Homo sapiens: one gene and its partners. The protein of the gene in region 3 purifies or fractionates together with the protein of the main gene of each other region. This does not show direct contact. Each region holds a gene or a part of one and is shown on either strand. Other genes may lie near its edges.

Region 1 (3,500 bases), on a different chromosome or scaffold from region 3:
CCAAGTTCTGTTCTCTTCATGAAAGTGGTACAGTATCGATTCTCTGTGATCACCCATGCGCGTTGAAATATGAAAGTATGTGCCTCACACACACACACACAAACACAGAGTTTATTTCCAAAACCTGACAAATAGAAAAACCCTGCCTTATATTCAGCTTGTCAGTGACTTTTTCCCCTTAAATTCTCCCACTGTAGTGATGATTTCTTAAAGCTTCAAAATAACTCCAGTGGCACAGAAATATCTGTGAGCAATACTTACTTATTTCTCCAGTAAACTTTCCATCTATTCAGCTATCTATTACAAGCTGTTGGTCAACCCCATGAAGGCAGAATATTAACCCCCAGTCATGCATGGACCAGATATACCCCCTACAACTGTGCATGGACCAGAACCTTCTGGATAAGGACTGGCTGTCTGGGGAAGGGGCAGCTGTGGGGGAAGGTATATGGGGTGATAGGGCCATGACCTTGGCAGCCCATAACTGTGCCCCACCTCCAGGTGCCCCTGGGATGGCACCTTCTTTGGTCCATTGAGGCTACCCTCTGGTTGTTAAAGATGTGAGAGCATCAGATCCAGTTCACAGCTCTCCATCACAGACCCCATAATACCTGGGGTGAGAAGAGGCCACCCAGTCTTTCCATTTTTAAAGCAGTTAATTTCTTAACTTTAAAAAAAAAATCTTTCTTTTTTACTCTATTATATAAATAGGTGACATAAAGACAGTTTCTTACCTTGAAGTGTTGGAAGACCTAGAACCTTCCTTTCCCCACCCCAGTCATTTTCCTGACCTTGATGTCTCCAATACAGTGCTCTTGAACTCTAGGGTCACGTGCTTTAACCTCTTATTTTACATTACAGAGGAGGAAACTGAGGCCTAAAGAGGGGAAATGATTTATCCAGTGTCATAGTGTTAGGCCACACCTTCTATACCACAGTGACTATGTCCTAACTAGTGACAGCTGCAGTGTAGGGCTTGGTGCATTCTTACTTGGTACACCTCGTCTTTAATCCTGCGGGGTGAACATTTTCACCTCTCTTATGCCCACCTTGGGGAAAAGCAAGAGGTAACAGATTTACACAAGGGGATGTCGCTAGCAAGTGAGTGGCCAGAGTTTGCACATAGGTCCTTACAACCCCAATGCCCATGCTCCCCTCCCTATCATGCGACAGACGGCGAGCCACCGGGATGCTGCCAGCCAGGGTCCCAAAGTGGTTGTCCCTGGGCCACTCCACCTATCCTTGTCTACTCCCCACACCTCCCTCACCTTCCAAGTTCTAGTCTGGAATCTAGCCTTGGTCAGCAGAGATGAGAAAAACCACTCAGGTGACCCCAGTTTCTATTCCTGTGTCAAGCCAGAGATAGAAATTCACCTGAACCACATACCAAATGGGCCCCTAGGTCAGCTCATGATTCCCCAATCAGGCATTGTCACCAAAGCCACCAAATTCCATGAGAGGGAGCCAGGGGGAGTTGAGGAGAAAGTAGCAATCCATTTTTACACTGAATTTCCAGGGCAAAGAGACTCTCAGCCACAGTTATTTCCCTTAGAAGTTCAGTTTTGTCTTGACCATTTCTAAAGTCTGCTCAGAACTTGGCTAGTAGATGACCAAAGCCCTGGGCTAGTTAGCCTTGTGCATGTCCCCTCCCAGGAAGCAGAGCACAGGGAAGAGTATAGGGCAGTGACTGAGAGTAAAGAGCATGGGTCAGTGATTCCACACTTACAGGACACAGCATGGGTCAGGTACTATTCTAAGTACTCTTCACATAGAGTAATTCAACAATGTTACTATTACTCATGAAATAATGGGGGCATGGAAGGGTTAGCCAGGTAGTTCATGGTGGCAGTGCCAGGATTTGACCCAGGCAGTCTGGCTGACAGCTCACGCTCTTAAGCACGGAGCTCCTTGCCTGGCACATGAGTAACTGAACTATTGCGAGTCCTCTGGGCTGTGTGGCAGAGAGAATCTGGACTGGTCCATCTGGGGAATTTTTCTCAAAGCTGCCCTCGTCTGGTCTTGAGAAATGAAACCTACCTTTGTGACCCCCAGTTCTTGCCCAAGGAGGAATTGTACATGCCCCCACTGGTGATCAAGGTCATCGACCACAGGCAGTTTGGGCGGAAGCCTGTCGTCGGCCAGTGCACCATCGAGCGCCTGGACCGCTTTCGCTGTGACCCTTATGCAGGGAAAGAGGACATCGTCCCACAGCTCAAAGGTAACATGCAAGGCTGTGCATAAGTCTGGGGGCTTTTCTTTTTTTTTTTTTTTTTTTTGAGACGGAGTCTCGCTCTGTCGCCCAGGCCGGACTGCGGACTGCAGTGGCGCAATCTCGGCTCACTGCAAGCTCCGCTTCCCGGGTTCACGCCATTCTCCTGCCTCAGCCTCCCGAGTAGCTGGGACTACAGGCGCCCGCCACCGCGCCCGGCTAATTTTTTGTATTTTTAGTAGAGACGGGGTTTCACCTTGTTAGCCAGGATGGTCTCGATCTCCTGACCTCATGATCCACCCGCCTCGGCCTCCCAAAGTGCTGGGATTACAGGCGTGAGCCACCGCGCCCGGCCGTCTGGGGACTTTTCATGCATGGCTCTGATTTACTCTTTACAAACCTACTCAAGGTAAGTCCTGGATTCATTGTCTACATTTTACGGATGAGCAAACTGCGTGAGTTGCGGTGGGTTATGGCACTTTCCTAAGGTTCTATCATTCGTAAGTGGCAGAGCTGGGCTGGAATCTCGGCCTTGTTTTAGGGGTGGGTGGCATGCTCGAGGGATTCCTCTCTGAAGCGTCCTGCTCCTGGGTGAATGTAAGACTTCTTTTGAGGAAGTGTTAAGTGCTCATGAATGTTCCCTATTCACCTTTCAACAAGCAGCTTGCAAAGCAGGGAGAGCTGTTCCCACATCAGTGATGGGGATGAAGTCATTTCCTCTGCCTTTCACTGAATGGTTAGGAAGCACTCACTGACTGCCACGTGCTGTTCTAGATATCTGGGGACAGTGGGGACCAAGAAAGGCATGTTCCCCTCTCACAAAGCAAAAGTCCAGCAGGGAAGGCAAACGAGGAAGTGTGCAGTTGCAGTCCAGTGTGATAAATATCTTGATGGGGAAAACAGGAAGCTCCCTGACCCCATGAACACTGAGAGAGGAGGAGATTTTATTTCAGATTGCTTTCCACCTGTTGGCCTACCTCATTATCACATATAATTAATATGTAAATGATAGAGCAGGGCATAATACTTACTTTAGATTTCCATAATAAATAATAGCTAGTGATACAGCATTTTGCAATTACCCATTCAATAGTTACTTGCTTTTAGCTTACCATGTGCTAGGGACTGTGTTAGGGGCTGGGGGCTACATTGCATCAGTGCAAGAGATCCCAGGGCCCCTGGCCTCATAAATTAGACACCGTGGGAGGGCTGGAACAGCCTCATTCGGCTGATCCTTGGTGGCTTCAAGACTGAAGCAGATGTCTTCTATTTAAGCAGCTGTGTCACTAAC
Region 2 (3,500 bases), on a different chromosome or scaffold from region 3:
CACACAGCTGGCACTAGTTAGTTACACCAGGCTTCCAACAGTTAAGATTTTCTAACTCTTTTTTTATTTTTTTTTTGAGATGGAGTCTCACACTGTCGACCAGGCTGGAGTGCAGTGGTGCAATCTCGGCTCACTGCAAGCTCCACCTCCTGGGTTCACGCCATTCTCCTGCCTCAGCCTCCCAAGTAGCTGGGACTACAGGCACCCGCCATCAGGCAAGGCTAATTTTTTGTATTTTTAGTAGAGACGGGGTTTCATTCACCGTGTTAGCCAGGATGGTCTCGATCTCCTGACCTCGTGACCCGCCCACCTCGACCTCCCAAAGTGCTGGGATTACAGGCGTGAGCCACCGCACCCGGCCGCCAAGATTTTCTAACTCTTAACTGCTTTATAGTTAGTGTGTATCACGAATGTGCAAGAGGACACAGGGTACTGTGTTTCCCGAATTCATTGAATCAGAGAGCCTGGTGAAACACTGGATAAGGAGGAAAAGAAGCTACAGATGCTGGGACCCAATGGAGCCCACTGTCCCTCTCCCCTGCCCATGAATCCACCTTTGCGCTGGATCATCTCCGAGCGGATGGAGAGCGCGTCCTCTGCTGTGGAGCTCTCAGCCACGTAGGATGTGGTCTGACTGCAGAAGGAGATGTTGTCTTCATCCGGCCCCGTCCGGGAGGACTATCAGGGTAGAAGGAGATCTGGGTGGGGCTGTCTCCTCAAGGCTCCCCATTGGAACTTTTTTTTGAGACAAATCCAGCTCAGGCTGGAGTGCAGTAGCGAAATCTTGGCTCACCACAACCTCCGCCTCCCAAGTTCAAGCGATTATCCTGCCTCAGCCTCTCAAGCAGCTGGGATTATAGGTACCCTCCCACCATGCCTGGCTAATTTTTGTATTTCTAGTAGAGACAGGGTTTCACCACTTTGGCCAGGCTGGTCTCAAAATCCTGACCTCAAGTGATCCGCCCACCTCAGCGTCCCAAAGTGCTGGGGTTACAGGTGTAAGCCACCTCGCCCAGCCTCCCACTCGAACTTTTGAGTCACAGATCCCCTCCAGCATCACCTAGCACTGAGCAACCCTGAACTAGCCCTCAGGGTTCATTTAGTGTAGCCCTTTGTGATAAAGAAACTGAGACCCAGAAATGTTCCAAGACATCCTTGCCAGGGGTCAAGCAGGTAGAGAAGAGTCAGGACTGAGCTGGAGGCAGGGCTCACCTGGATACTCTGGGTGTCTCCATGGTCCCAGCCACCCTTGTTCAGTTTCTGTTTCTCTGGAAGACACCAGAAGGGTCTGTTGGGTTAGGCCCCTGACCTTGACAGCTGACAGTGCAGCACTGGAGGGAGGAGAGGGGAGGGGAGTGGAGAGGAAGCTTACCTTGGTGTTGTAGGGAGCGGAGCCCCTCCTGGGCCTGAGTGTGCAGCTCTTCCAGGTGGGGGGGTCGCCCACTGGGAAAGAAGACGTTGTCCTGGTGCTCATCCACTGCAGACCCTGGCCCCTGGCCAGGCCCTACACTTAGATGTTTGTCATTCTCAGCCTTGGCAGAGCCTAGTAGGAGGGAGGAGGAAGGGAAATGAGGTAAAGGCATCTGGGCCCTGCAGGGGCACAGGTCTCACGGCAAGGGCAGTCATGGTCCCCAGACTGCACACGGCCATTGCATATACAAGCAATGCCCCCTTCCCCAGTCTGGACACATAACCCACAGTTCTGGAGTAAACACTCAACACACACAGCCCCCATATACACAAACTACACCCAAGTGTACATAAATCTGAGTACCCACACCACACAAAGGGCCCCATATAAGGCCCCACACACAGGGCACACAGGTACACAGGTCTACTGTGTACGTACACAGCACTCACAGATGTCATTCATGTATATAAACAAAGGGCATCCGAGTATAAACACACATAGGTACACACACCAAGCACACCCAGCCCGCACGTAAACACACAACACCCACAGTCCCTGCTCTGTATATACACAAACAGTAACCAAGTATACACACGACTATGTACTCACACGTCACTCAGAGCCCCACAAAAAACATCCCGAGTATACACATAGCCCATAGTAAATACATTGCTCTCGCCTCCATACCCAAAACCCCACTTCACAGGAAAACAAACCACTCTTTTCATGCCACCACTTGAACCAGGTCCAGGAAGAAGATATCACGGGAAATCAGGAAGGAGAGACAGCTGGCATGAGTTACAACCATATTCCCAGAAAATCCTAGGGGGGATGCAGACCAAGGAGATAGCCTCCTGGGTCCCCTACTCACCCATGTGGCTGCCCCTTAGTGGAAGGATGGGCAGGGGAGGGGAGAAGAAAGACCCAGGCCCCTCCACCCGCCCAAGGGAGCTCCAGTCTCTCTTGGGGAAATAGTCCCAGGTATCCCCCTCTCCTGGAGGCCCTGGCCCTGGCCCTGGCCCCTGTTGCAGAGGAGCCAGGGATCCATTACAAAGGATCCTGTTACAAGCCCCGCCTGTGGAGGGGCTGGCCATCTAATCCTGGGGATGGGGGGCTGTGTCAGCACTTTGCAGCCCCAGCCCCCCCTTTAAATGAAACCCACAACATAAGCAAAAGCGCTGGAAGGGTCATGTGACCTTGGTAACACCTTATAAAGGGACGGGAACAAAACAAGCCCTTTAAAGGGCCATGCTCCAGGAGCAGGGTCTTCAGTTCAGAAACCTGCCTTTCCTCCTCCCTCAGCCCATTCGTCAACAGCCAGAGCTCCTGCCCTAGGGAGTCTGCAGGAATCCCACAGGTCAGAGCTAGGAGGCCCCCAACAGATCCAACCAGACCAGTGCCCGAGATCCCCAGATTTTACAAGTGGGGAAACGGTTCAAAGGGGCAAGGCCTTGCCTAAGGTCACCCAGCAGTAGGAGTCAGACTGACCCTGGACTCAACTCCAGGTTCCCAGAGGGGACTCCCGGATCACACTCAGAGTAGGGGCCCCCAACCCTCAAAAGTCCAATAAACTCTTGTCCCTATGTCTTAATCCAGGTCTGAAAGCCCAATTCCTAGGAGAAGGAAGGAGGAACAGGCCCCTCCCTCCAAAACTTCTCCATTCCCAGGCCTCTAAACAGGATTTCACTGAGCAGGCTTCCCAACTTCCAGTGGTACTACTCTCCTCTCTTCTGGGCCGCCCACGTCCCATCCTCCCCGGCACACTAGGAAAGGCTAGTACATCTTGACTGGGAGGCTGTACCCAGTAAAGTGTGGGTACCCCGGCAGGGAGGCAAGTCTCACGGGAGGGCTGCAGGCTTCAAGGTCAGAGACACCTGGATCCATCCTCCCAACCCACAAGCAGGGCCCAGACAAAGGCAGCAACAAAGCGGCTGGACAAAAGCACAGCCGGATGGGAGATTCTGGCCTCATTATCAGCCCCCAGCCCCACCCCATTACTTTTGCCCAGCCTTGATTCCTCATTCTACATAAGGGTCTGGGAAAGGGAGGCATCGAGCATCCCTCCCCTCCCCCCAAGCCACACCCACTC
Region 3 (4,176 bases):
ACCACTGAAGCTCCTTGAAATGTGACTCTGACACTGGCCTCATCTCCCCACAGCTCTTTTCAGTGGCCTGCACCCATGACACTGAAGTACAGGCCACTCTCCAAATATTCCTTGCACTTGCACATCTCTTGCCTTTGCTCATGCTGTTTTCTTAAACAAGAATGCCCTTCCTCTTTTTACCTGCCTGGCAAACTCCTACTCATCCTTCAAGACCCAACTCCAATTCATCTCTGCAGACCTTCTCCTGGGACTCCTCCTTCCTCACTCCCTAGCCAGTTAGTCTCTCCCTCTTGTTTTTTCCCAAAAGTGCTTTGCACGAAGGCTTATTAGAGCACTATACTGTACTGAAACTCTGTGTGTGTGTGTGTGTGTGTGTATGTGTGTGTGTGTATGTGTATGTGTGTAACTGTGCGCTTTAAGGTAAGAGGGCAGGGTCCTGTGCCTCATACATTTCTTTATTTCCCAGCCCTGATACCTAGCAGGCATTCAAGAATAAATGAATCAATGCCTCTTCTCTAAGAGCATTCCCCCGCTCTGGCACACGCACATACATTCATGAAAACAGTTTACAATATTTAAAAAGCAACCTCCAGGGCAGGGCAAAACAGATTTCATTTGGTCTGGGGAAGGGATGGCTCAAAGAAAAGAAGCCATCTCAGTCAGGTGGGGTGAGTCAGAGGAGGAAGAATTCTAAGCCTTCTTTGGAAGCCCAGATGCTCCCTGCACCTGGACCCCATTCAATCCAAAGGGCAAACATTCTTGGCCTCAAAACACCAGCAATGGCTTTGCAACCCTCTTCCCTGTGTACCTACCCAGGGTGTGGCCACATACACCCACCCACTGCACACACACACACAGTCCAACTCCCCAGTCCCTCAGCCTGTGATCTTGCCGTTCAAGTGTTCCTTTCATGATTCTAATCTTGGCTGTATGCTTGGCTCTGTGTCCTTGAGCACTGCATTTACTTCCTCTGAACCTCATCTATAAGATGGGGATAATGATCCCTGCCCTGCCTACCACACATGAGAACTAGAGGAGACAAGAGATGGGAATGTTTTAGAAATTGCAAACATACAAGATAATTATCAGGCAGGCTGGTCACACTGTTTTCCTTTTCTGTCTCCACATCTTTCCTTTCCCCCCATATTACCAAGAACAACCATCTCTGTGTCTCCTTTCCCACTCCAGGTCTCCTAGCCTCAGAAGCAGCCAGGAGGTTCTTATTATTCTTCTTGATTCCCAGGAACCTCACCTTCTCCAGAAGCCTTCCTGTTTCCTACCCTCTATGATCATTCCCGCAGTCCCTTATCATTGAGGGGTACCATTCTGTAGTCCTGTAGCTGGTGGAGAACACATCAGAGGGGGAATCAGGAGACCTGGGTTCCTGCCCCTACTAGGCCAACACGTCTAGCCGTGCGTTTTGGTTAAGTAACTTTATCACTCTAAGTCTATATCCCTCTAGGCCTCATTTTCCTCATCAGTAAGATGGAGTTTCTTGTCTTGCTTCCCTCTTAGAAGGTATTTTGAGCACTCGCACATTAAGTTTATGGATGTGCTTTGAGACGTATAGACTGAGTGAGGGATGGAGAAGGTGATGGTTATCATCTCAAGGAGTCAAGAAAATCTGAAAGCAGCTTCTAGGCCCCCAGCATGGGTCTTCCTCCATCAGGAACAGACAAAGTGGACGGATGCAAGGAAATAAGGAGGAGCTCACACGTTTACAACATGCCTTTGTAGGTGAAGTGGAGAGAGCCCTGGGCTAGGACTGAGGAAACTTGGGTTCTAATTCTGTTTGGTCTCTGTTGTAACCTTAGGTAAATCATCTCCCCTGGGGCATCAGTTTCCCTATATGCAAATTAGTGGAGAGGATTTTAGGAGGGATACTCTGGTGGGCTTTCACGCAAGAACTAAACTCATTTATTTTCGAGATAAGAGACTCTGAGGTCCAATCCCCCTTTCCCCTTCTGTCCCATGGGGTATGCAGGCAACAGGAGCAGGAGGCCCGTTTTACAAATGGTGGCCCAGGAAAAGCGAGCACAAGGCGCAGAGCTGAGGGATGACTGCCCGGGTTTACACAGCCTGTAAACTAGAACTCAAGTCTCCCGACTCCCAGCCTCGACCTATGTTACTGGCAGCAGAAGATGCTTTTGGGAGTCACCAGGTTTCCCGGGACTAGGTCAGACAGGGTGAAGGACACAGTGAGGTGTAGAGGGAATGGGCAAGTCAGCTCCGCAGAGCCGGTGGCTCCAGCCAAATGAGACTGTGCTGGGTCCTGAAATGTCGTTTCTGCGTGTGCACTGGCTGCCAGCTGCAAGTGTTCGCTTGCACGTCTGTGGGTGTGGAGGAACTTTTCTTGTGGCCGTCTTGAGGGCTGGGAATAACGGCGCAAGTCCCCACGGTTTCCAGACGGGGCGCGCAGAGCCCAGCTCCCTACTCCCACATGCTGCTCCACGATCACTGCGCTCGGGAGGATCGGGGAGGATCCGGGAGGACTAGCTTGGTATTTGCAGCGCCCACCCCTCCCCCACTCCCCCTCGGTTCCACAGTCTCACGGAGAGCGCGCCGTGGCCCTTGGAAGGGAGGCGGGAAGACCCCTCATTTCCACCCCAGGCCGCAGCTCAGCCTTCCCAGCTGGGTGGGTGCCTTACCTGCCTCTCAGCAAGGCTCCGGGGCGCCCGTTTGCTCGCTGGACACGGCGCCCTCTGACCGAGGGTGGCCCAAGCGCTGCGACCCTGTGCATTCCACCAGCCCCGTTCCACTCCGCGGGTGCCCAGCACCGCCCAGCGCGCTCTCTGGCTCTGGGCTCCCACCCGCGCTCGGCTCCCTTTTCCCTCCCCCGGGCGTCCCCTCCCCCTGCCCCGCCCGGGCCCCAGCACACCCACTTCTCCCCGGGCTGGCCTGGAGTGCCTCCGCCCAGCTCCTTGGCCTCCCCCGGCTGTGGGCTCCGACCCTTCCGTCCCCTGCAGCGCCTGCTTCCTGGACCAGAGACCGAAAGCCTCTCGCTCCGCTGGGCCTCAGCAAGCCCAGCATGAGGCCGATCTCCAGGAGTCGGTTTTGCTCCAGTGTGGCTGTGTGGTGGTGGGCGAGTCGCTGCCCCTCACTGGGCCTTGGCCTGGCTGTAAAGTTGGTACAGTTCCTCCATGCATTCTTCACAGGCTTATGGTTGAGGTCAGATGAGACCTTTGAGTCCAAAGTATTAAAACCAAAGGGTCAACAGCAAAATAATATGATTCTTACACAAACTCTTTTCCACACAGGACGCAGAGGCCCAGTTGGAGAAGGGATTTGCCCAGGTAGCAGAGCCCAGACCCAAAATCCACTACACACCCCTCTGTCTCTGAGTAGCACCAGCAAATGTTTCCTCCACCAAGCCTCAAAAGTTCGTGACAGTGCCTGACCAACTTGTGTTCAGCCGCACCTTACTCATCTCTGTCCCAGAACAGTTTATTTTCCCACCACCATGCCCTCACTCAAACTGTTGTTTCCTTGCTGGTGACATTGCAGGCTTCAGAGAACTGGGGCAGCCGGGGCAGCTGAGGAATAAGAGCCAGGAGGCTAGTGGCAGAGGAAGGGACAGTTGCAGAGAATTTCTCCGGGGGACCCTGTGGGGTGCCCTTTTACCAGCTCACTGCCTCAGAATAATTAATAACAGCCTCAGGCCAGCTCTTTCACTCCCTTGCAAAGGTCTGCTCCAGGATATCTGAAGCACATACTCTCAATTACAGAATCCCAGAATATATCTAAGAAGTGCTATCGTTTTAAAAAGACCTACTACAAGGTGGGTATATTGTATATTGTATACAATATACAAGGTGGGTATATTGTACCCACCTTGTTTTGACCCTACTATTCCTTTTTCTCAGTCTGGAGATCACCTCTCAGAAAAGTCATCCTAATCACCTAAGCATGCAATCTCAGTTTCCTTCCTTCCTTCCTTTCTTTCTTCCTTCCTTCCTTCCTTCCTTCCTTCCTTCCTTCCTTTAGACAGGATCTCACTGTGTCACCCAGGCTGGAGTGCAGTGGAGTGATTATGGCTCACAGCAGCCTTGAACTCCTGGGCTCAGGTGATCCTCCTCCCTTAACCTCCTGAGTAACTGGGACACACCACTATGTCTGGCTAATTTTTGTATTTTATAGAAATTGGGTTACTCCATGTTGCCCAGGCTGATCTCGAAC
Region 4 (3,500 bases), on a different chromosome or scaffold from region 3:
GAAAGGAAAACTTAATTTCTGCTTGTTTGTTTTTCTGATGTCTTTAAAGGAACATCCCTTAATGAGTACTGCAAAGGATACTGCAGAGCTGAGAAGGAATAAAAGAAAAAAAAGACAGGAGACAGGAATTTAGGGCCTGTCTACTTCAATACCTTAGTACCACACAAAACCTACCCACTCTAAGTTGTAAGAAGGGATTCTCTCTAAGTAGTTTGTCAAAATATTGCTTTTCTAACTGCTTCACCAGCACTCCACCCTCTCCCCATTCTATCAGCTCTAGAAGCTTTTTACAGTTATAAACACTTACTGAATATCAGCTACATGCGTGCCAGGTACTGTGCTATGCCATGGATAAATAAGGATACCCTATTCTCATAAAACGTCCCACCCTACAGGAAACAGAACCCTAACATCAGAAGCAAAGCAACCACATACCCCACTGTCAACTTTATTTTCAAATGATGCCTCTGCTCTTTTAATAATATCGCCAGTGATTTTCAACAAGTTAATCATTGTAAAGATATTGGGAAAATTAAATAGGCATATGGAATGTTCTCATCTTCCCTAAAATAACAATACAAACAAAGCATAAAATTAACTCTTTAATTTTTTTTCCAATCCCTGTGGTGTAAGTGACAGGCTCTTTTATATGCAAAGTTATCAAAGGTCAAACGTCTAAGCAGTAACACTTCAGAGGGTTTCTGATAGCTCACTATCTCGCTTCCAAAGCAAAAGCATTGCTGAGAACTGGCATGGAAACTTTTCTCTTTTCTTTTATTGCCTTTTTGTTGTCACAGAAGTTTTTTAAAAGGGAAATTCCTCTCACTCTCAAGAGGGATTCATCCGAAATACACATAACCAATGCATATGTAGTACTCTGGATTTCATTCATTAGAGCAAAAATGGGATCCTTATGAGGCTTCTGGAACCATGGGTACGACGAGATTGGAAACTTCCATTGAGAAACTAAATATGACCTTCAAAAGTAAAACTTCAAAGCCATACAAAGAAGAATAAGGACTGAGGAGGGTGGTATTCCAGCATCTCAGTGATGTTCTATCCATTTACAAAATAATGTTCTAAAGTCTGAACTCACACTGAAAAACAAAGAGTAAATATAGGATGATGAAGTTCCTACCTGCTCTGGTCTCAGGCCCGGGGGGACCCAGGCGTACTCCTCCAATGCACAGCCAGAGTCATCATCTGATGTGGAACTTCTCTGACAGCCAAAGGCCAGTTTGCTCATCTTGGGCTCCATCTCCAAAGGCATAAAGTTTAAAGCCTGGTTTCTCAGTCACAGGACATCAAACAATGGCTGCTGTGAACAATATAAGAAAAAACAAAGACATCTAAAACCTGAATGCATTTCTCTTACCCCCGACCCAGAGCTTTTATTGAATGCTGTTAACAGACAGCTGGGCCCAGAGAAAGTAACCAAATTACTACTGTCACCACCCCCAGGCCCCAGGCCCCCTGAAATTTAAAATTTAGAGCTATATAATTTGGTAGTAGTCTCTTTGCCAGCTCAGAATTTCAGAACATGCCACCAAAGCTAGTTTATTTCCAGGAGCCTTTAAAAGGTGCCTCTCTACAGTCGATTCCTTAGAAAAGTTCTCAAGAAAGTTGATGTGTTGACTTTCTAACTTGCCCACAAATCCTTGTGACATACTGTAAGTTGTAGAAAGAAGTGTCGGGGTCAGGCTACCTGCCTTGCCCACTACTATGCCCCAGGAAAAATGGCTCAAGACCCCACTCGGCACCCCTGTATTTCCTAAGCAATTTTTCCAACTGAGGCAGTGCTGCCTCCTGAGAGTGGGTCCACTCAGCCAAACTGCTTAGGTTTCAGATTTCTAATTATGTTTTGTAAGACACTAAACTGAGTTTACACACAAAATAGAAATAGCACAATTAAATCCTTATACTGCACATTAAATCCTCAAGCCTTTACTAAGGGCTAAAGTCAGTCAGACATTCATCAGTGAGTTCCTTCAACAAACAGTCACTGAATACAGTACTATGTGAAAATAAAATCCAGCTTGGTGACTGTTAATGTTTAATTGCATCATAAGCAGGCATTCGCTGAAAAGTTATGCAGTCAGTGCCTAGTATGTGTGAAATGTCATCAGCCTGCTATGGGCAGAGTAAGATGTAAATCCTCCTCTGAATAAAAAGCCTCCTTGGATGAAGGGCTATAAAAGTGTCAAGACAACATTCCCTGCCCTAGAACCCAGGAACTTTGCTATCACCATTTATGTTCTTTGTATCTTCTGATTATTAAAATCATCCCTCATCCCAGGGCACAAAGAAAAAAATAATAATAGCAGAACTTTCAGAACCAGATGGAGAGATGGAGCTTTTTTATACCTGGGCCTTTCACCCACAAAAAAATGATGTAAAGAAAGAAAATTATAGATAATTATCCCGACCCAATGATTTTAGAGAAAACAAGATTCAGGAAAGTCAAGAGACTTGTCCAAGGTCATATGGCTAAAAGCCAGAGTCTAGTCACACATACACACTGACATGTCAGACTTCCAAAAATTCTTCTGCCTCAATAAACATTCTTCCATCTCAGGAAGGATGTCAAAAAAAAAAAAAAAGTTCTCATTTGCTTAAACAAGTGTAAAAGGCAGTGAAAAGCCATACACTTTCAGCCTGAGACTAAGTCATTTTTCAGTGACTATCTCAATTCAACTCTAAATACTGAGTGTTGGAAAATACTACCTATTAAAACCTTTGATTATTGGCCGGGCGTGGTAGCTCACACCTGTAATCCCAGCACTTTGGGAGGCTGAGGCAGATGGATCACAAGGTCAGGAGTTTGAGCTCAGCCTGGCCAACATGGTGAAACCCCGTCTCTACTAAAAACACAAAAATTAGCCAGGCGTGGTGGTGGGTGCCTGTAATCCCAGCTACTCGGGAGGCTGAGGCAGGAGAATCGCTTGAAACCGGGAGGCGGAGGTTGCAGTGAGCTGAGATTGCACCCCTGGACTCCAGCCTGGGCGACAGAGCGAGACTCCGTCTCGAAAAAAATAAAATAAAATAAAACTTGATTAAAATTTATGGTTTTTCTTTTATAAATGATAGGACATTGAGAAAATTAACATTGTAACAGTTCATAAATGAAGGGCAAGCACCTCATAGCTACAATCTTTATTAGCAGTAGGAGCAATGCCACACATATATTATTCCAACTAATAAATTTAACTTTCATTCACCCTGAACAAGAAGTGAAGATGACCTCATTTCCTACACTACCATTGGGAGGTTATGACCTTTTAAACAAGGCATCATTTCACACAGGTGCGACTCATTCATGTCTTGACTAAGGAAAGGCTTTCTAAACATAGGCGTATTCCTCTGACTCCTCAATAAAAAAGGATGTGTTAATGAGTCAGAAAATGTCTTGGATATTTTGAAAAAACCACTCCCACATGTCAAAGGAAGAGAACCAGAGGTTAAGAATTTAATTAGTAACTCTAAAACTCCTACCAGGAGAA
Region 5 (3,462 bases), on a different chromosome or scaffold from region 3:
TGCCTGGCATATAATACATGGTCAGAAAATAGCAACTATTATACTAAATTTAGTTTTTTTTTTTTTTGAGACGTAGTCTCGCTCTGTCGCCCAGGCTGGAGTGCAGTGGCGCGATCTCGGCTCACTGCAAGCTCCGCCTCCCGGGTTCACGCCATTCTCCTGCCTCAGCCTCCCGAGTAGCTGGGACTACAGGCGCCCGCCACCGCGCCCGGCTAATTTTTTGTATTTTTAGTAGAGACGGGGTTTCACCGTGCTAGCCAGGATGGTCTCGATCTCCTGACCTCGTGATCCACCCACCTCGGCCTCCCAAAGTGCTGGGATTACAGGCGTGAGCCACCACGCCCGGCCTATTTATTTTTTTTTATTTTTTATTTTTTGATGTATCATACTGAGTTATGAAAGTCATATTAGATAGAACATTTACTATTCTAGTGCAAACTCCCTAATTATCATACTAACAATTTCTGGTGACCTCTTAAAATAAAAAAACACAATTACTATTGTCATTAATATGATCTTTAATAAACGGAATAACGCACCATTTTACAGCAAGCCTTTTTAAACCTAAAGAACTGCCTTAAAATCTCCTTCTCCAATGTCTCTGTATCAATACAATCTTTTTATTTAGGTTTATATATATCAAAGCATTTACTTACACTTATTCATAGAAAACTCTTTAGTGGCTTAATGTCAGCTTTCATAGTGGCATCCATAGATAATACAAAAGAAAAGTGATTTGCTTTATTTTATACTCACACTGATCCATCAAACACAACTTATACAGCATAGCAAGGCTTCAGACAGCTTATACAAAAGCAAAATAACTGAAATTATTCATAAAGTCATATATGATAGTCTATCTGTAATGTAAGAGCAAAACACACCAACAAAAGATACCCGTTAACAAGAAAGAGGGTTCTGAGGAAGTGCGAGTATTTTCTAGCCTTTCTTTTTCCGGAAAAGCATCCTCAGAAGTGAATACTCCGTAGCTTATGTTTCTCCTGTCCATTCAGAAAAAGCATGACAGCTACGCATCTCCATGTTTCAGCTACTACAACACCCTAAGAGTTAGTGTATTTTACAATTATCCATGTATCTTTATTTGAAAAATTATCAGCAAAAAACTGAGGATGATTCCAGCTTACATAAACACTGATACAATATAATCTCTATGGAAATGAAATAACAAGGCATACAAAAATTGCTTAAATAAATAAATGTGGCCAGAAAAAGAAAAGCCACAGAAGTCAAGCAATTCAGTGTTAAACTGGGACCTATCTTTGAATTGCATCTTTTAGTAATTTTTTCTTACTGTTAAGCTTCTTTAAAAATATGTTTCCTTTACATACTTACGAGGATTGGTAACAAGGTGAAGAGCCTGAGACAAGAGACTGGTTACAGATAACTTCCTAGGATTTTAAGTATATAGCACATCAATTTAGAGCTTGAACTTGTCTGATTCAAAGAAAAATTCTGTTTGACAATGTGATAAATACAGGTTATTTTCTCAAAACCATCCAAGCTATTACTAAAGTTATAAAATATTTAGTTCACTTTTAGAAGGCTTTATAACGTTAAATTGTCTCTTGAGAAAATCCTATCTGACAGGAACTACTTTACCAAGTTCCCTTATTAAAAAACAAACAAAATGAAACAATTTGTCCCATATCATGTATGGTCATTTGACCAAAGAACAGAAATGTAAGTCGTTTTAAGTCAGTGCTTCAACTCTAAAGGCCTAAATTTGTTGCAACATGTAGCCAATTAGTTGAGTCATTCCCTCTGTTCAGTAATTACAGAACTGGGCAACTTTTTATAATTAATGAAATCTGATATTATATCTATGTGAAAAAGTCAAATAAGATGAAACATTAAATGAACTGTGCAACAAACACTTTAAATATTCAACTGGATCTAATTGCTTACTTGCTAACAATTGAACTTTTTCAGTGTACAAAGGGATGAAAGGGGCCCTGAGTTTTTAAGTAACATGATGTCTGTAGAATGCATCTAAAACATGAAGATGTTTCTGAAATCTAAAGGTATAAATAAAATGGATAAAACCCACATGTTGCCTTTTAAAACTGAAAACCAAATCAAGTTGTAGTTTCAAATACAGTAATTTGCTTAAAAATTCAATCATAAACTGGACACCCTAATGATGTGATTTTGTTCTGAAGATTCCTTCTCTCTTACCCAGATTTTAAAATGGGTTTCAAGTTGTTTTAAAAATGTGTATGTTCACAATGTTTAATAGTAACACTACAAACATCACAGTAATAACAGAATTGGACTTTTAAAGATACGATAGATTTATTTTGAGCCTAGTTTTAATATACAGCATAAATTCTTCTGAAGTACTTTCAAATGTATCTGCCATGAGATAAATTTCTAGGTTTTTCTCTATATGCACACTCAACTTAAATCAGTCACCTAAAAGTTAAATGAAAGTTGTATAGTCCAGTCTATGTTGCAAAATAATAAGTATTTCAAAAGTGGTCTACAAAAATGTCCATAGATAATACCTGATTAATGTAGGGTTTGCTTTTGAAAGTTAATCTTGCATTTAGTGTTTAATATTTCATACAAAAAATATGTAAAAGGTTGTGGCTCAATCATAAAACTAAGCTTGCTGCAATATGTTAAAAAATTTTAATGGCAAAATGATATACAATTCTGTGTGCATGGCTTTTTAGTTATAACTAATGAGAATATAAAATCATAAAATTCCACAATAGAAAATGTTAGATAACACAAAAATTAAGTGCCGATTTGCTGGTGGTCTGATGGTTGAATCCACTTTCAAATAGAAACATCTTAACTCTCGATTCTATCAAACTATCAAACTATTACTTAACTGGAGTAATGAATTTGAATATAAAAGAAAATATAATTCTATATTCTTAAATATAAAGTCATTAAAATAGGACTGAGGAGAAGAGCTTAAGCAATTTTGTCTGAAGAATTGAGACTTAAGTGTTCATTGAGAGGCCTGAAGCATACTGAAGACTAAGAATATTGGGGATGATGACCAACTGCTCTTTTTTGTCCTACTGGGTAAAAGAAAAAAATTTAAAATCAAAGAGGAGGGAGACAGAATAGATATGAAGAAAACTTTCCTGACACAGACTACAAATCAGATAACTGAGGTTTGGAGTAAGTCAGACATAAACTATGAGGTGATTTTTTTTGTTTTTTTTTGAGATGGAGTCTCACTCTGTAGCCCAGGCTGGAGTGCATTGGCGCGATCTCGGCTCACTGCAACAACCTCCGCCTCCCGGGTGCAAACGATTCTCCTGTCTCTGCCTCCCGAGTAGCTGGGACTACAGGCGCGTGCCACCATGCCTGGCTAATTATTTGTATTTTTAGTAGAGATGAGGTTTCATCGTGTTAGCCAGGATGATCTCAGTCCCCTGACCTCGTGATCCACCGTCTCGGCCTCCCAAAGTGCTGGGATTACAG
Region 6 (3,500 bases), on a different chromosome or scaffold from region 3:
TTAAAAGAGTTGTGAAAATTAAGTGAAAAGAAAAATGGACAAAATATTTAAACAAGTAGTACTTTGAAAAAGAGAACATTCATTTAGCAAATAAATATATTTAAACGTGCCCAAAATCAAGAGTTATCAAGTAAATGCACATTAAAACTACAATGAAGGCCGGGCACAGTGGCTTATGCCTGTAACTCCAGCACTGCGGGAGGTCAAGGCGGGCGGATTACATAAGGCCAGGAGTTGCAGACCAGCCTGGCCAACACAGCGAAACTCTGTCTCTACTGAAAATACAAAAACTAGCCAGGCATGGTGGTGCACATCTGTAGTCCCAGATTGAACCTGGGAGGTGGAGGGTGCAGTGAGCCCAGATCACGCCACTGCATTCCAGGCTGGGGGGCAGAGCAAGGCTCTGTCTCAAAAACAACAACAACAACGACAAAGCCCACAATGACATACCCACTAGAATAGCTAAAAATTTTAAGACTACATCATCATGTAGTGACAAATTTCTGACATAAAACTGGAGTAATATGACAAAATGAAAAATCAAGGCAGGGGAAGAAGAGGAGTGGTCAGATTCAGAGACAAAAAACAACCAAGGAGGAAAAAAATAACAAGAGATAAAGAAATGATATATCCTTAAGTTTTATTTTGATATCTGGGTGATAGATGGTTAGAACTGATAGTTGTCAAGTAACCAGAGTTTGATATCCTACCCTACATACATATATACACAGCCTATTCTTAACACCTATAAGCAGGTGGCCACTTCAGAATGTCAATAATTTTCAGGGGACAATGGCCATTCCCAGATATCTGCCACAATGACCTTCTTAGGTTCAATCTCTCCATTAAATATAAAGGTTTATTCATTATCAGGTAACTTAAGAGAACCTAATAAGGTATTAATGTTTGAAAAAAAAAAAGTTCTTCCCCTTCAACCCTCCACCTCAAGGACTTAGTACTGCTGGGGACAAACCAAAACACTGCACATGCTAGATTTCTTTAAGCAGATCTTTTTTTAGAAGAGAAGGTTAAGATAATTCATCCCATGACAAATGAAAGTAAAAGCTGCTGCTCCAGATAAGAATAAAAAAAACTTTTAGTACAAATGAGAAGTAAAATTCTGAGTCACTACAATTCTCATATTGCAAATGAAAATAAGCAAGTGCTTACTAAGGGTACGTTTACCGACCAAGAAAATAGTTTGCGAGTTTTCAGATACAATAACAATTTCACTGAATAACAGATTTTTCATCCAACTGCTATCATTTAAAAATTACACTAAATATGAGGGAGACTGTACATAATAAAATTTTTTAAATCCTTCATCATTTCCCTTCATGCTTTTTTTAAATATGAGATTAAACACAGTTCTGAGCTTGCATTAAAAGTCAGTAAGAACTGGAACTACTTCACAAGACACTTCATTTTCAACATTTCTTAACTGGAGGAAACTAAAGAAAGGCCTCCCTGAATGCAACAGAGATCGCCATAACAGGTCTCCATGGTGAAGAACTGTAAATGTTCCACAAGGTGCTATAGGGACAGAGAGGTGCTTGTCCTTTAAGCATAGCAGCCACAGACCCATTAAGAAAATAACGCTAAAGGAAGTCTAAAAGCTGGGAGCAACACTTACTACACCAAAAAAGATAGCAGATGCCAATAAGTCAATGTGAAACTTAATCCTAAAAAACAAAGGATGAGGGAAAAGAATGTTTCAACAATACCAAAATGCCTCAGGAACTAATATCCTTCTCACCCATGGTGTTGGACAAATATTGCCAATTAGCTGATATTTTTATAACAGGAAAAAGACTGTAAGCAAAAACACTTTTAAAGACTTTGTAACTTAGGCCAGGCATGGTGGCTCACTCCTATAATCCCAGCACTTTGGGAGGCCGAGGCAGGTGAATCACTTGAGGTCAGGAGTCCAAGACCAGCCTGGACAACATGGTGAAACCTCATTTCTAGAAAAAAATAAATAAATAAATAATTAAAAATTAGCCAGGCATGGTGGTGGGTGCCTGTAATCCCAGCTACTCAGGAGGCTGAGGTAGGAGAATTGCTTGAACCCAGGAGACAGAGGCTGCAGTGAGCTGAGATTGTACCACTGCACTTCAGCCTGGGCGACTGAGTGAGGCTGTGTCTCAAAAAAGAAGAAAAAATAAAATAAAATAAAAGCTTTTTAACTTAAGACAAAATGAAAAATCAAGGAAGGGGGAGAAGAAAAGTGGTCAGATTAAAGGACAATAGACAACCAAGGAGGAAAAAAATAACAAGAGATAAAGAAATGATATATCCTTAAGTTTCATTTTGATACCTGGGTAATAGGTGGTTAGAACCATCACTTGTCAAGTAACCAGAGTTTGATATCCTACCCTACATACTTATATACAAGGCCTATTTTTTTTTTCTTTTGAGATGGAGTCTCGCTCTGTCGTCCGGGCTGGAGTGCAGTGGCGCGATCTTGGCTCACTGCAACCTCTGCCTCCCGGGTTCAAGTGATTCTCCTGCCTCAGCCTCCCGAGTAGCTGGGACTACAGGCATGCACCACATGTCCGGCTAATTTTTGTATTTTTAGTAAAGATGGGGTGTCACCATGTTGGTCAGGCTGGTCTCGAACTCCTGACCTTGTAATCCGCCCACCTCGACCTCCCAAAGTGCTGGGATTATAGGCATGAGCCACCGCGCCCAGCCACAAGGCCTATTACACGCAACACCTCTGAGGTCCTTTATTTAAACAAAAGCCATGCTAGAGACACATCCACCTAACTACACTGCTATAGTATTATGTTGTATATTCACTGGCAGAAAATCATTCTCTTCTTGACTTACTTACAAATTATACATAAGCTTATCATTAAATGTTATTAAGGAATAAAAATATATTTTAAACCATCAATATCAGCTGATGTGAAACAAAAATAAAATTATAATGTCTTTTCTCTTACATCCTAAAAACCTACAAGAAATTCCCTTGTATAATGATTTTAACCAATCTGTCATATAATCCATTTGAAATGCCCAAAATAGCTAAGACAATTATAAAACAGTGGGGAAAAAACAGACAATTCAATCCACAGTGATTAGACAATTGATTATTGTCTATTGTCAACTGGTTATCCAATTCAATTCCTCCGCAGACCTTATACAAAAATTAATTCCTGGTGGATCAAAGACCTAAATGTGAAAATCAAAAGTTTAGTAAAACTTGCAGAAGAAAATATGAAAATATCTGTATAACCTCAGGGTGGAGAAGGGTTTCTTTTCTTTACTACAGGTGTGAGCCACCACACTCAGCCCTGAAGCCTTTCTTAAGAAAAATAAAATTAAGGGAGAATGACAAATATCACTAAGTGAAAACCCACATTTTCTTTACAATAAAAGACAGCAGAAACAAACAGAACTAGAATACAGATTTGTAACATACATACCCAACTAAAGATTAGTAAGAAATGTATCTGGAACTCTAAAAATCAATTTTGTTTTATTTTTTGGTGTTG
Region 7 (3,500 bases), on a different chromosome or scaffold from region 3:
AAGAATGCCCCAAATGAATAGTATACCTTAGAAATCCTTTCAGCACAAGGCTTACAGTGTCTCATTCTTTCAAATATGATCTTATAATTTGCAAAGTTCATTTATAAGAAATTTATATATTAAAATATTCCTAAGAACAATTATACTAGGTAATTTCACAGTAGGTATTCAGGGTCTTAGAATAAAGTGGGACCTTGAAAATAAGTAACTTAAATTTTAGCTGAGTATTCTCAAGCTACTTTTATCAACTGTTTAGAATGAGAGGTATATGTGGCAGAATATTAACTAGAGCCAAGCTATGACAATTTGGCAGAGACTCTACCTCAGACTGTACGTCTAAACAAGTATTTAAGTAGTAACCTTGAATACTGTTTCCAAAAGCTTAACAAGGTGGTTTTATTTCCTTCAATGAGAATGTTTTCCATCAATAAAAAAGTTAACCCACATCTTGTACATAGAATACATTCACTTTGAACTCCATCAGTGGATAGGACAAAGCAATGTCCTTTAATAAATCCAACTACTTCCAAGTATAAAATAAATACAAATTTGTAAAAATTTTTAAAATAGAGATTATACATATAAGGAGATAGAAGAAGTAACATCCTGTGAATATATGCAGTACTTTAACCAAATACTGGTCATCAGATATATGATGCTCATATGGAGAGCTGAGAGGCTTAAAGAAGAGACAACAATAATTTATGATTAAAAATTAAGGTTGGCTGGGTGCGGTGGCTCATGCCTGTATCCCAGCACTTTAGGAGGCTGAGGCCAGCATATCACGAGATCAGGAGTTCGAGACCAGTTTGGCCAACATAGTGAAACCCGGTATCTACTAAAAATACAAAAAATCAGCCGGGTGTGGTGGTGTGCGCCTGTAATCCCAGCTACTCAGGAGGCTGAGGCAGGAGAATCACTTGAACCTGGGAGGCAGAGGTTGCAGTGAGGCGAGATCACACCACTGCACTCCAGCCTGGGCAACAGTGCCAGACTCCGTCTCAAAAAAAAAAAAAAAAAAATTAAGGTTGACAGGTTTGCCAGCCTGCTTCTGAGCTTTCTATCTCCAATAGCTGGTAAGTGGTAACATAGTTATTATTCTTTGTAGACTTGCTCGATCAGAATTACATTTTTGTAGCTCAGAAGATTCACAGTTCCTGTTTCGTATCAAATAGAAAATTCTGGGTCGTACTAAATATTTATAAACTTTCATACTACATAATCGATGTTTTTTAGGGTACAGGATGCCAAAACCATTTAACCTCAAAATCCTCTTGTCTATACATATGTACTTAACAATATGCATATTGTTAGCAAATACAGATGTGAGAGAAAGATAGTATTCTTGAGAGAACTGCATGCCAGGAAGTGCTAGCTTTTAACCTTTGTGTTTTTAATCAAGTAACAGATATTGTTTAAGAAGGTATATCTGAATATACTGTAATGTAAATTTTCAATGAAATAACTTCAGCCCTGAGACATAATGAGATACCAAAGTTTAAAAATCCCAAGTATGTAATAAAACACCAAATTTTAAAATATAACTTTTAACATTTCCTTTTACTTTTCTGAAGAAACATTTAAGATGCACTGTTATAATAAGGTAAACATTGAAACTGAATATATTTGAATTCAAAACTACAGATTTTAATTACTTTTTACTTAAATATTTTAAGCAATTAACAATTTAACCACAGCACCTTATCAGCATCGTAGTATCTAGTAATTCTATTTTTATATCAAAGAAGTATACATTTTTGTCCATTTTTGAATAATTAGTAAATCAGTAGCGTTTGCTTATATTGAATAACCTTGATTGTGAACAATATAAGCAACTCTAATGGACTATTTAGAAAATCGTAATGTTCTAATTAGAAAATACCAGTATCAACAATGTTATTTGTTGAATGCAAATGATAATTACTTTCAGCAATCAACTAAATACCAGATTGACTACAAGAAAGAGAATAAAGGACACCAACTCACCATTAAACAACATTTACTGACTCTATGACCCACCCACCACAATGTTAGCAACAGGGATAATATTTATATAAAAGAGAGTGGGCATGAGCTATGTGTTTCACATCTCTATGTTCCTAAGGTCAGTGGATGATTCATTAAGGAGTTTGTCACCTTTATGAATTCTTTATGTTTAACTTAAGAAATGGATACTCATTTTGTTTGGGGGTTGAGGTAAAACGGGTGGGTCAAATAGATTACCCGAAATAAACATAAACTCATATTCTTTTTCTCCCTTATCCCCAAAAGTGTGTTAAATATAATTCATTGTGGAGAAAAGAAATTGTTAAGTGTGAATCAATTTTATAAAATTAACTGTAATATGGTGGTAATGAAAGATGGTAGTCTGTAAGCAGAGTTCTGGCCACTATTTTGTATATTTAAAAGGTCTATGCAAAAGCTTTGTGATGAATAAAGGAGATTAGGCTTAAAAAAAGTTAACTGCAACAATTTTACCTTCAATTTTTATGATATGGCTCCTTGCATTTGAAAAAGGCTATAGATAGTGATAACTGAAAGAGTAACTGATGGTCCTTTTCACCCTAAGCACAGAGGAAGAGTTCTTCTGTATGCTTACTATTTGTAGTCTGTTACTATTTCTGACCCTGACTCTTGAATTCATTGCCTCTGCTCAGAATCACTCAAGAGTTTAAATTACACTTCTGCTAGACATTTTAAAGAACATATTATACTCATTACACATTCACAGTTAAGGATGGAATCCTTAACAATGAAGGATATAAAACAACTTTTGGTATAATCAAGGATATAATACAACTCGAAAATTGTCTATCATAATCTTCTTAGCTGTTACCAATTGTATGATGTCATATTTACATATGAATGACTTCAACACCTCAATAATCTATGGATTTGTAGTACTGTGATTCTCTTGAAAGCCAGAGCTTATGTAATACAAAATAATAAAATTATGGATTTTACAAAATAATATTCTCTGGCTAAATATTCTTTTTTTTTTTTTTTTTTGAGACAGTGTTTCACTCTTGTTGCCCAGGTTGGAGTGCAATGGCGCAATCTCGGCTCACTGCAACCTCCACCTCCTGGGTTCAAGTGATTCTCCTGTCTCAGCCTCCCAAGTAGTTGGGAGTATAGGTGTGTGTCACCATGCCTGGCTAATTTTGTATTTTTTTTTTTTTTTTTTTTTTAGTACAGATGGGGTTTCACCATGTTGGTCAGGCTGGTCTCCAACTCCTGACCTCTGGTGATCCACCCACCTCGGCCTCCCAAAGTGCTGGAATTACAAGCGTGAGCCACCAAGCCTCGCCTCTGGCTTTCAAAAGAGAGAATCACAATAATACAAAAATTTAAACCTGTTAAAATAACACTGTCCATATCCCAACAGCTCCTAAACACGTTAACTAAAATGGCATAATAAATTTGCCTGAGTTCATGTATGCCTTAATAAATAATCTTCAGAAAAAAATTTTAATCATTTTATTTTTCTATATTAACCATTT

What was found.
Region 1: the proteins of KCNE3 (region 3) and MYOF purify together in Homo sapiens (co-immunoprecipitation; 2 studies listed by BioGRID and IntAct, with this or other methods). This does not show direct contact.
Region 2: the proteins of KCNE3 (region 3) and NHSL3 purify together in Homo sapiens (co-immunoprecipitation; 2 studies listed by BioGRID and IntAct, with this or other methods). This does not show direct contact.
Region 4: the proteins of KCNE3 (region 3) and PRICKLE1 purify together in Homo sapiens (co-immunoprecipitation; 2 studies listed by BioGRID and IntAct, with this or other methods). This does not show direct contact.
Region 5: the proteins of KCNE3 (region 3) and BMPR2 purify together in Homo sapiens (co-immunoprecipitation; 2 studies listed by BioGRID and IntAct, with this or other methods). This does not show direct contact.
Region 6: the proteins of KCNE3 (region 3) and STAM2 purify together in Homo sapiens (co-immunoprecipitation; 2 studies listed by BioGRID and IntAct, with this or other methods). This does not show direct contact.
Region 7: the proteins of KCNE3 (region 3) and MLF1 purify together in Homo sapiens (co-immunoprecipitation; 2 studies listed by BioGRID and IntAct, with this or other methods). This does not show direct contact.

The regions. Positions count from the first base shown.
Region 1 is NC_000010.11:93,346,335-93,349,834, reverse strand, and holds part of MYOF (myoferlin), read left to right. Parts: coding exon 1-27; intron 28-2,052; coding exon 2,053-2,218; intron 2,219-3,500. UniProt on the Homo sapiens protein: Calcium/phospholipid-binding protein that plays a role in the plasmalemma repair mechanism of endothelial cells that permits rapid resealing of membranes disrupted by mechanical stress. Involved in endocytic recycling.
Region 2 is NC_000001.11:32,765,830-32,769,329, reverse strand, and holds part of NHSL3 (NHS-like protein 3), read right to left. Parts: intron 1,544-3,500; coding exon 1,373-1,543; intron 1,269-1,372; coding exon 1,213-1,268; intron 679-1,212; coding exon 555-678; intron 1-554. UniProt on the Homo sapiens protein: Able to directly activate the TNF-NFkappaB signaling pathway.
Region 3 is NC_000011.10:74,464,750-74,468,925, forward strand, and holds the start of KCNE3 (potassium voltage-gated channel subfamily E member 3), read right to left. Parts: upstream 2,801-4,176; 5' UTR 2,741-2,800; coding exon of another isoform or gene 2,649-2,740; intron 2,573-2,648; exon of another isoform or gene 1-2,572. UniProt on the Homo sapiens protein: Ancillary protein that functions as a regulatory subunit of the voltage-gated potassium (Kv) channel complex composed of pore-forming and potassium-conducting alpha subunits and of regulatory beta subunits.
Region 4 is NC_000012.12:42,471,247-42,474,746, forward strand, and holds part of PRICKLE1 (prickle-like protein 1), read right to left. Parts: intron 1,319-3,500; 5' UTR 1,271-1,318; coding exon 1,139-1,270; intron 1-1,138. UniProt on the Homo sapiens protein: Involved in the planar cell polarity pathway that controls convergent extension during gastrulation and neural tube closure.
Region 5 is NC_000002.12:202,564,788-202,568,249, reverse strand, and holds the end of BMPR2 (bone morphogenetic protein receptor type-2 precursor), read right to left. Parts: 3' UTR 501-3,462; downstream 1-500. UniProt on the Homo sapiens protein: On ligand binding, forms a receptor complex consisting of two type II and two type I transmembrane serine/threonine kinases.
Region 6 is NC_000002.12:152,165,764-152,169,263, forward strand, and holds part of STAM2 (signal transducing adapter molecule 2), read right to left. Parts: intron 1-3,500.
Region 7 is NC_000003.12:158,574,194-158,577,693, reverse strand, and holds part of MLF1 (myeloid leukemia factor 1), read right to left. Parts: intron 1-3,500. UniProt on the Homo sapiens protein: Involved in lineage commitment of primary hemopoietic progenitors by restricting erythroid formation and enhancing myeloid formation.